2 separate regions of the Homo sapiens genome follow, and region 1 is linked to region 2. The links come from fine-mapping of genetic effects on gene expression. A gene starts in region 2. The other region holds a variant in brackets. All regions are shown on one strand. Distances are from middle to middle. Region 1 holds the start of LINC02470 (long intergenic non-protein coding RNA 2470). Region 2 holds the start of CLEC12A (C-type lectin domain family 12 member A).

Region 1 (5,025 bases), 26 kb after region 2:
TCCACAGGAGCCATCTTAATGGATGTGAGGTGATCTCTTAATATAGTTTTGATTTTAATTTCTCAAATGATTAGTGATATTGAATGTCTTTTCATATGTTTGCTGGACATTTGTTTATGTTTTATGAAGAAGTATCTATTCAAGTCATTTGACCAGTTTTAAATCAAGTTATTTGTTCTTTCATTTGTTTGTTTTCTGCTGCCCTATAGGAATTTGTGATATATTGTGGATTCTAATTCCTTATGAGATATGTGATTTCCAAACATTTTCTCCCACTTTGTAGGTTGTCATTTCACTCTGTGGATTATGCTCTTCGATGCACAGAAGTTTTAAATTTTAATGTAGTCCATTTTGCCTATATGGGTGGTATTGGTACCACTTCCTTTTTTTATATCTTGCAATGAGTAAACAACCTCCACACACACACACACACACACACACACACACTCACTCTCTTAAAAAAATATTTTGGTGGCCAGGCACGGTGGCTCACACCTGTAATCCCAGCACTTTGGGATGCTGAGGCTGGTGGATCATGAGGTCAGGGGTTCGAGACCAGCCTGGACAACATGGTGAAACCCCATCTTTACTAAAAACACAAGAAATTAGCTGGGCGTAGTGGTGGGCGCCTGTTATCCCAGCTACTCAGGAGGCTGAGGCAGGAGAATCGCTTGAATCCATGAGGCCGAGGTTGCAGTGAGCAGAGATCACACCACTGTACTCCAGCCCAGGCAACAGAGTGAGAATCCATCTCAAAAAATATATATATTTTGGCAATAAGACTGTTTTTGGTTATGTATCCAAATCCATTCTCTTCTTCTATATTTCAGGTAGAATCCTAATTTTGTCAGTGGAGAGCGAGTGTGTATGAAATTGTCTATATCTATATAATCTATATCTATATATCTGTCCCTAGTTCCTGTGCAGAGCTTCTAAAAATGGAATTTCCTGAACAGTAGGGGTGCTTAGGGACATCTTTTATTATTTGGTTTTTAACCTTGGTTCCTAACACAGAGTGCCTAACACCTTTGTAATTGCCAGAGTGATAGGAGCATCTGACACAGAGCTCCTAAATCCCTTGGAATGTTCTGGGCAATAGGAATATCTCTGGTTCTAATGAGGTGACTCTTGGTAGGCTCTTAAATGAAGGCTGGTTGCCAGAAAGACCAAGACATGGTTAGAAGCTTAGACATTTCACTCCTACCCCACATTAGTCACAGATGGGAAAGGGGCTGGAAAAAGAGTAATCAATCATGTCTACATGATGAAACCTCCATAAAAGTCCCAAAAATACAGGGTTACAAGAACTCCCAGGTGGACAAACACACTTATGTGCCACGAGGATGATGCACCCCAACTTTATAGGGACAGAAGCTCCTGCACTCTGGACCCTCTCAGACCTCCCCCAACTATCTTTTTATCTGGATGTTCATGTGTACCCTTTATTAATATCATAAACTGGTAAACATTGAGTGTTTCTCCAAGTTCTCTGAGCCTCTCTATCAAATTAATCAAGTGTGATGAGGGGTCGAGGGAACCCTCAATCTGTAGCTGGTTGGTCAGCAGTTCCAGAGGCCCAGACTTGACACTGGCATCTGAAGTGGAGGGCAGTCTTGATGGAGTGAGCCCTTGATCTGTGGAATTTGATGCTAACTCCAGGTGGATACTGTCAGAATTGAATTGAATTATAGGACATACAGTGGGTGTCCCCTAGAGCAGCAGTCCCCAACTGCTGCCCCAATAGGGCACCAGGGACCGATTTCAGGGAAGATAATTTTTCTACAGACCCTGGGGTGGGGGAAGATGGTTTCAAGATGATTCAAGTGCATTACATTTTTTGTTCACTTTATTTCTAGTATTATTACATTGTAATATATAATAAAATACTTACACAACTCACCATAATGTAGAATCAGTGGGAACGCTGAGCTTGTTTTCGTGCAACTAGACGGTCTCATCTGGGGATGATGGGAGACAGTGACAGATCATCAGGCATTAGATTCTCCTAAGGAGCATGCAACTTAGATCCCTTGCATTCACAGTTCACAGTAGGGTTTGCACTCCTATGAGAATCTAATGAGCAGCTGATCTGACAGGAGGTGGAGCTCAGGCAGTAATGCAAGTGATGGGAAGCAGCTGTAAATACAGATGAAGCTGCTCTCTCTTGCCTGCTGCTCACCTCCTGCTGTGCAACCCCATTCCTAACAGGCCATGGACTGTTCCTGAAAGGCCATGGACCGTTCCTGAAAGGCCATGCACCGGTACTGGCCCATGGCCCGAGGGTTGGGGCCCCCTGCCCTAGATAATTTATTGATTTGAGGAGAAACCCCCTCCCTACACATCTGGTGTAGGAGGTGAAATATTAAGAGTATTGTAAGAAGAAAACAATCCCCCCGCCCCCATATATATACTTGCTTCTATGAGGGAGAGGTTGATCTTATCTCTAATGATTTGGTTGAATTTAATCTAAGCCAGTCATACTGTTTCTATTCCTCTTGAAAGTTATCATCTTAAGAAGGAATATATGGTCTGTCAAGGTAAATGAAAAATGAGAGAAATCTTCTAGTTGAATTCTAGGAACTATTTTCCACTCATTAAGAAGATAGAGGCAGAGACTGGCATGGTGCAACTTCATGGTAAGGATCACTAAGGATTGCCAGCAGCCACCAGAAGCTGGAAGAGAGGTGTGAAGCAGGTTCTTCCTCAGAGCCTCTTTATTCCAGACTTCTGGCCTCCAGAACTGTGAGATACCACATTTCTACCATTTATAGCTTTGAAATCTGTGCTAATTAATTACTGAAGTCACAAGAATACATTACATAAATAAGTATAAATAATTCTTATGTATAGAATAAGGTCTATACACATACAATATATGCTTATACATGCATATGTATGTGTTTGTATATGTATTTGTGTGTGTATATATATGAAAATTTATATATATATATGAAAATTTATATATATATATATAT[C/ATATC]TCCAGGCTGGAGTGCAATGGCGGGACGCCGGCTCACTACAACCTCCGCCTCCTGGGTTCAAGCGATTCTCCTGCCTCAGCCTCCTGAGTAGCTGGGATTACAGGCGTCTGCCACCACACCAGGCTAATTTTTGTATTTTTAGTAGAGACGGGGTTTCACCATGTTGGCCAAACTGGTTTCAAACTCCTTGACTTCAGATGCTCTGCCTGCCTCAGCCTCCCAATGTGCTGGGATTACAGGCGTGAGCCACAGTGCCCGGCCGTATATGTATATTTTAAAGAGAATGTCTGTGGGGAGTAGGGTGTGTGTATAAACTTTACTTTGCGTGGTTCTAATATGCATAAACTTCACTTCTCACAGTTTAATTAAATAACTCCCCAACAGCACAGTTTAATTCTTTCAGCGTACTTATCTGTATTTGTATTATATTTACTGTAAGTAATTGTATAAAGTAGAAACTTCCATGCTAGTTTTTCAGTTCACGAATCACTATATACATGTTTGTATTGTGATTAACGACCAACCATGTCACTTTTTTCCAAGTCTGTCAATGATTGATTGGTCACCATGCATCTTTTATCAGTTAATACAGAATAAGATGGAGAGTTATTCTGTATTATTTTGTAAATGTCACATGGGTTTGTCACTGTATGACAAATTCCAAAGGAAATTTGAAACAGGAAGACAAGAAGAGGAAGGTAATTGAAACAGGAAATTGGTTAGTGACACAAAGTGCAGCAAAAAATGATGGCGCTGAAAGGGGAAATAAAATAGAAGAGAAATGAAGTTAGAGAAGCAATAGCTGTTGATAGGGTTATTAATAATTCACCTTTTGAAGAGTCTCTAGATAATGCAACCAGAGGAATTTAGTAAAGGCACACTTATTGACAAAAATAAGGTAAGTGGTTGTGATGAAAAGAATGAAGAGGTCCCAGAGGAAGTTATACGAGCTAAAGTGTTCACATCAAATGAACTCTCAATGTGTTTCCTAACATTTCAAGTGCAAAGAATAGTATATTGGAAGTCTATCCAAATTTAGGAATAAAAAAGCTTGAGAAGGCATCTAAAAGATGCTGGCTCCATATTGTAAGCGATAGAACAACAACAGCACGTACTCAATTCACACTACTCATTTTCTTTTAAGCAAAACACTTGAAACTCAGTGTTTTTAATGTTTTAATTATAGCATACTTTAAAAATATTAATTTTATTGTTGTTTACATTTCCCTATACGTTTATGAGTGACAGTAAAGTAATTTTCAATCAGGAAAAGAGGATAAAGGAAAAATCATACTTTTCCCTATTATTAAAATAGCTTGGTGTGATATCAGCTTGTGCAGTAATTTTTATTATCACACACTACAGTGCAAAATAAAAACTGCCTGTATATGAAACAAGCTTTCATTAGTTCCTATGAAAACATGTAAAAACAATGGCTTTGTTTTCCCACATTTTACTAAACACTCCACAGGTACACTTAGAACACAGTGGTTAAAAATGTAGAACAGAAAAAAGTTATTAAAAACAAGAAAATGGGGGCAGATCCACTTTGTGGCGTGAGAGAATGTGTACACTTTCCAGTGCAGGCAATTTATGTTATATACCTGTGTCCAATCGGAGATTTTTAGGGAGACAATATAAAGAAGCCGGAAAGGGAGGGTATGGGACTCCCCATTCTCTGCTCTGCGTACCAAGCAGGTGGGAGGTGAGGTGCCCATTAGGTTGAATTCTTATCGCTGTGCCCCAGCCAATCGTGGGCTGCGGAAATCATGGGCTGTAGAGTCATCGCTGCCGGGGCAGAGGCACCGTTGGTGCATGCCCGGCTGCCGTTGCTGCCCCTGCCTCGTACAAACGTCAGAGAAGGCACATGACACGCCCCTGGGGGCCATCTGGCCCAAGTCCACCTGCGCGGCTGAGTGGAGGATGCTAGGTTGCTGTGCTGTTTCTCCTACTGTCTTGCTGCCGCACCACCCCTCAGAAAAACCGGGTCGTCAGTTTCCTGCGGTTTGCACTCACCAAATATACTTAGCAATTTGCAATTCACCCGCA
Region 2 (5,544 bases):
AGAAGCCATGAGGATGTGTCAGGAGGGATGTGCAAAGAAAGCATTTAGAGGACTGTTCAACTTTTTCAATGCTGCAGGGAAGTGAAGTAATGGAAGAGACATGTGACTATTGGGATGAAACAGGCAGGACATCAGTGACCTAAAGCTCAGTCTCTATGGCACCAAGGGGGCAGAAGCCTAATAGAGTTGGTTGAGAACAGAATGAGAGGTGAAGAACTGAGAGTCAGTGGCCAAAGAAAATGCTTTCAAAAGTTGAGTTGTGAAAGGAAACAAAGAAGTTAAATAATAATGGAAAGGCTTAAGTGGTCAAGCAAGGATTGTGTTTTGTTATAAAAGGAGTAGCAGAGTATATTGGTGAGTAGTAGAGTATGTTGGTGCACCAAAAAGGAAAAGCAGAGAAGGAAGAGAGAATAATGACACAGGAGAGAAAGGAAAAAATTACGGAAGTCTGTCTTTGAAAACGACACATGGACTGAAATTCAGAGCAAAATGAGGAGCCGTCCCTTCATAAGTACATACTTATCGTAAATACTATCTGGAAGGAAAGCAGAGTATCAGTAAGGACATGGTAGGATAGACATTTAAATAACAACAAAAAAAAGTGTAGATGGATGCTTTTTTCTTACCAGAGGAAAGGTGAGAGTAACTGGGGTTGAAAATTTGTGTATTTTTCACCAGCAATATTCAACTCTGGGGCAGACTGGGTGGATATTCGGGTTTAACCAGAACTGGAGTTGTTTTTATTTGTTTGTTTTTGGGGTTTTTGTCTTGTTTTGTTTTGATTTGTTTGAGGCAGGATCTTGCTGTGTCACCCAGACTGGAGTACACTCGCCTGATCTTAGCTTACTAGAGCCTCCAACTCCTGGACTCAAGTAATCCTCTTTCCTCAGCCTCCCAAGCAGCTGAGACTATGGGTGCCCAGTTAATTAAAAAAATTTTTTTTTTATAGACATGGCATATCTCTACTTTCCCCAGGCTGGTCTCAAACTTCTGGCCTCAAATAATCCTCCCATCTTGGCCTCTCAAAGTGCTAGGACTATGGGTATGAGCCACTGCACCTAGCCAGAGCTGGAGTTTTTAAGGAAAAATTAACACACATTGAAGAGGAGAAGTGTAAGAGACTAAGAGTAGACATTACATAATACAATGTTATATTACATAATGTAGATTCTAAGCTCGATAATGAGAAAATTAGATGAGATTAAGAACATGAAGAAGACATGGATTCAATATTTCCGTGAATTCAGGGAATTCTTGTGGTGGGAACTTAAGGTGGATTGGCAGGAAAAGAGGTGGGAAAGGGTGTGAGAGGACAAGTAAAGGGCAATTGTTGGTAATATTAGGCTCATGATATGCCCATTCTCTTTCAGTGTATAAAAGAAGAAATATAAACAAGGAAATAAAGACAGAAAATATTGTAAAATTCTTAAACCCTTCTTCTTTCTAAAAAAAAATTTCAGTATTAAAAAAGAAGCCAACAGAATTAATCTGCTATCCTTTCTCAAGATTTACAATGCTCATCATAAATGGATCCAAGATGTAACAGTGAAATTTCTGTTTATAGCAATGCTAGAATATTAAAGATGTTATATTCTGTGTGGGGAGAGGAGAGAGGACAACAACTTAAATAATATGTGAGAATTTTGGCACTCTTCTCTCCTTATTTTTCTGTTTCTATCACCCTTCTTTGTGTTCTCCACTATCACTGTTTAAGTTATTTTTAACTCAAATACACTGATTTAAACTATGGATTCGCTAGGGCAGATTTCACTCCCAAAAGGCTAGGAGCCAGAAGGCAAGAACCATACATAATAGGAAAACTATAGGATTCTGAGTAAGATGAAGAGTAGTTTTGTTTAAGTGAAAGTCAACACAGATGGACCACTTATTTCATGATTTTAATTTGAATTGAAAAATACAAAGTTACTTGATATAATGTGGTTTTGAATATTATGAATATATTATGTCTTCTGATATTTCTTTACCTCTTTTCTTCCTTTATTCCTTAATGATTCATTTCATTTAACTTAACATGTTTTATTTTTTAGTAAGTTAGTAAAAAATCTCCAAAAGAAGTAGGAGAAATTTTAGGGTGATTTATGCTTAGTTTGGTAGATAGTCAAATGAAATCCTATAAAGGTCTCTCTGTCTGACACAAAGCATTTTCTTATAAAAAAAAAAACACACACACACACACACATATGAAATCATGACTTTCCTGAACATGTTTCTTTTTCCATGGCTTCATCTCATAAAGAAATAAAATCTTCATACAACCCAATCATTTGAAAAATTCTGTCCCAATTATATTGAGTGTGATAATAAAAAATTTCAAAAATGTAAAAGATTGATTATTCAATGCAGAGATAAGTGTTTTTACAAAACCCTTTTTTCTAATCATTTTGTTCATACACTTTTTGTTCCTTTGCTTAAACATAAGAGACTTAATTGAAAATTTAAGTTGAATAGTAACTATATCACTAATATTGAAGATGCAAGTCTATAACCACTTCTATTATACAAACTTACAACACATCCATAACTCAAAATCTTACCTTTTTCCCCAAATTTGCCAATTTCTGGGATTTTTTCCATCTCACTGGAGTTCTGGAATTGAAGATCTGCATAAGTAACTTCTTCAGACATTGATGAATATGTAAAGAAATCTTGACAAAGTGTAAAAACACAAAAAGATGAGTGAGTTAACAGAGCTGAATGTTAAACAGGACCTATAATTTTAAACTTCTGTTTATAAACGGAAGCTTAAGCTTACAAGTTTAAACTTCTGTTTATAAACCTACTGTACCAATCACCCATATGTCTGCAAATGAGCCAAATCTCATCTGTGGCTTCAGTTAAGAACATTGAACTGTTGCAACAGATAACATCTTTCTTCCTCATATTTCTTCCTTTTTCTCAATTTCTATATATTTACCAACTACAGAAAGTAGTTTTTGAAATTGTGTTTGGATAACATCATCAGTGTCATGCAAGAGAACACAAATAACTAGCACCACATGGTGCAGACATAGTGTAGGATTTATTGGTGAAAAACTTTCAAGCAGAAAAATAACAGAAAAGATGCAGTTCTCAGACACTCACTAATCTGCAGCTGTGGCCTGGCATAGATATTCCTTTTGTATGATGATGAAGGTCCTGATAGAAGGGTTCTCTTCACTGGGAGACTGAACATACAGAGAGCACTCCCAAGGAGAATGAGACAGTTAGTGTCATTCCGTTGCCATGTTACATAGCTATAGGTTTGCCTAAGAGAGGTAGGGAATGCCTAGTTTCTCTAAATAACAATATATAGGTTGGTGCTAAAGTAATTCTGGTTTTTGCCATTAAAAGCAAAAGTAATTGTGGTTTTTGCCATTAAAAGTTTACAAAATTACTTTAGCGCCAACCTATATATTAAGGGATCTGATGCCCAGAAACCACACCAGAGAGTATGCATACTGATGGCCAAGGTCTGTATACTGAGGGCTCTGGAAACAGCTTTGCAGGCCAGGAAAACTATAATCAGCCTTGCTATCTCTCTACAGACTGACTCAACCATTTGATCTCCTCCTCAGCTAAGCTATCAAAAGTGGGAGGGAAATGAGTCTCCAAAGTCCAGATTTGTGTCTTATTAGTTTGACTCAATAGTCTTAGTATTTTTTATTTCACTTCTTGATCAAGAATGCAAGTGGAAGTGAGGGGGTGGAGAGGACTGTTTTTGAGCATGTTCTCTAATATTCGTTAGTAAATCTTACTTTAAAATTCTTCTTGACATTGCCACATGTAAATCATAAAATGGTTAGGTATTATTATTATACATATGAAAGAGAATGCATAAATATTTTTAAAAATCAATTAAAAACTAATTGCTTTATTATGTCAGGATAGACAGGAAAAACAAAATGCTCCCTTTATAAGAGCTACTAAAAATAAATAGGAAAATATTACAGATAGAAATTAACTAGATATTTGCATAACCAAAATGAACAAAAAAATTTTAAAACTATTGAAGAAAAGAAAAAAATAGAAAAACATGCTGTGGGATTAGAAGCGTCAATACTGTATAAAAAGAAACTAAATTCTCCTAAATGTATCAAAAATTCAATGTCAATTTAATTAAAACAACTGATTTTCTCCTGATAAAGAAAAAGCTATTGAATACATTTGAAAATATTACCATGAAAATATTGGCAGCCACATTTAAAGGAAAATATATTCAAAACATGATTACTTCATCCTAAGTACTTTACTAATGTTGCTTTTATCTTTACAACTCTCTAAACCAGGTGCTATTATTATCACCCTTATTTTACAGATGCGGAAGTGAGTTGCAAAGTGGTTAAGTTTGTATCCAACATCACACAGTTGGTGAGTGGTAGAGTTGAGACCATCAAAGTCTCTGGTTGCCTTGTTCAAATATGTGCACAGGCTATAAGGCCTCTCCTGGTGGGAAAGAGTAGCCCTCTATTTTTCCTAGGTGGATCAAATATTTGCATATAAATATTTGTTTATAAATATCTCTTTGTTTGTGAAAGGATGGAAACCGGCCACCACACAGGCAGAGTCCTGTTCTGTGTTCTATTGCTCTGCTGTCTCATGTGGAACGTTGTTTCATCAATCAACACTAGAAGATGAAGCGTATATGACGAACTGTAAAGGGAAACAAATGAAAAATCTCAAAGTCCTGTTTGCAAGGTACTCTATTTTGTTGAAAATATTTGAATAAGTATTACTTCATACAAAATCCTTGGTTTAGAGCCAGCTAAAACATTTATATCCACAAGAATAAGCTGAGCTCTGAGATGACTACATGGTTTGCCCTTCACAGCCTATATCAGTTTTTTAAAAATTTTGTTATTGATACAAAATAGTTGTATGTATTTTGGAGGTACATGTGATATTTTGAAACCTGTATACAATGTGTAATGACCAAATCAGGGTAATAAGAATATTCATTCCGTCAAACACTTACCTTTTCCTTCTGTTGGGAATAGTACATTTCTTCTCTTTTAGCTATTTTGAAATATACAATAAATTATTGTCAACTATAGTTTTCCCACTGTACTATCAAATACTAGAATTTGTTCCTTCTATCTAATTTTATTTTTGTACCCAACCAACTTATCTTTATCCCCCACCACCCCTTTCTAAGCCTCTGGTAACCACAATTCTACTCTCTGCTTCCATGAGATTCATTCTTTTAGCTCTCACATATGAGTGGAAACATGTGATATTTGTCTTTCTGTGCCTGGCTTATTTCAGTTAACATAATGACCTTCAGTTCCACTCCTGTTTCTGCAAATGACAGGATTTCATTTCCTTCTATGGCCAAATAATATTCCATTGTGTATATATACTATAGATACCTGCACTCCCATGTTTATTGCAGCACTATTTGCAATAGACAAGATATGAAATCAACCTATATCAATTTTCATTCTAGTTGAATACTAAGAGACAATCTGCAAATATAATTACAGATGTCTTCCAATATTAAACATAAGTGATACATTATCCATTACCTAAATTATATATTTTTTGTGG

The links.
Region 1: its variant is fine-mapped to the expression of CLEC12A in whole blood (INTERVAL, PIP 0.98).

What each region holds. Positions count from the first base shown.
Region 1 is chr12:9,943,258-9,948,282 of GRCh38, reverse strand. LINC02470 (long intergenic non-protein coding RNA 2470) reads left to right here and starts at 4,788. Exons shown (of 5, transcript NR_104634.2): 1 at 4,788-5,025. It overlaps CLEC12A-AS1 (CLEC12A antisense RNA 1), which reads left to right. Exons shown (of 3, transcript NR_135047.1): 3 at 1-146. The variant C/ATATC (reference allele first, on the strand shown) is at 2,976.
Region 2 is chr12:9,968,699-9,974,242 of GRCh38, reverse strand. It overlaps CLEC12A (C-type lectin domain family 12 member A), which reads right to left and starts at 2,834. Exons shown (of 6, transcript NM_138337.6): 1 at 2,556-2,834. The coding sequence starts at 2,646.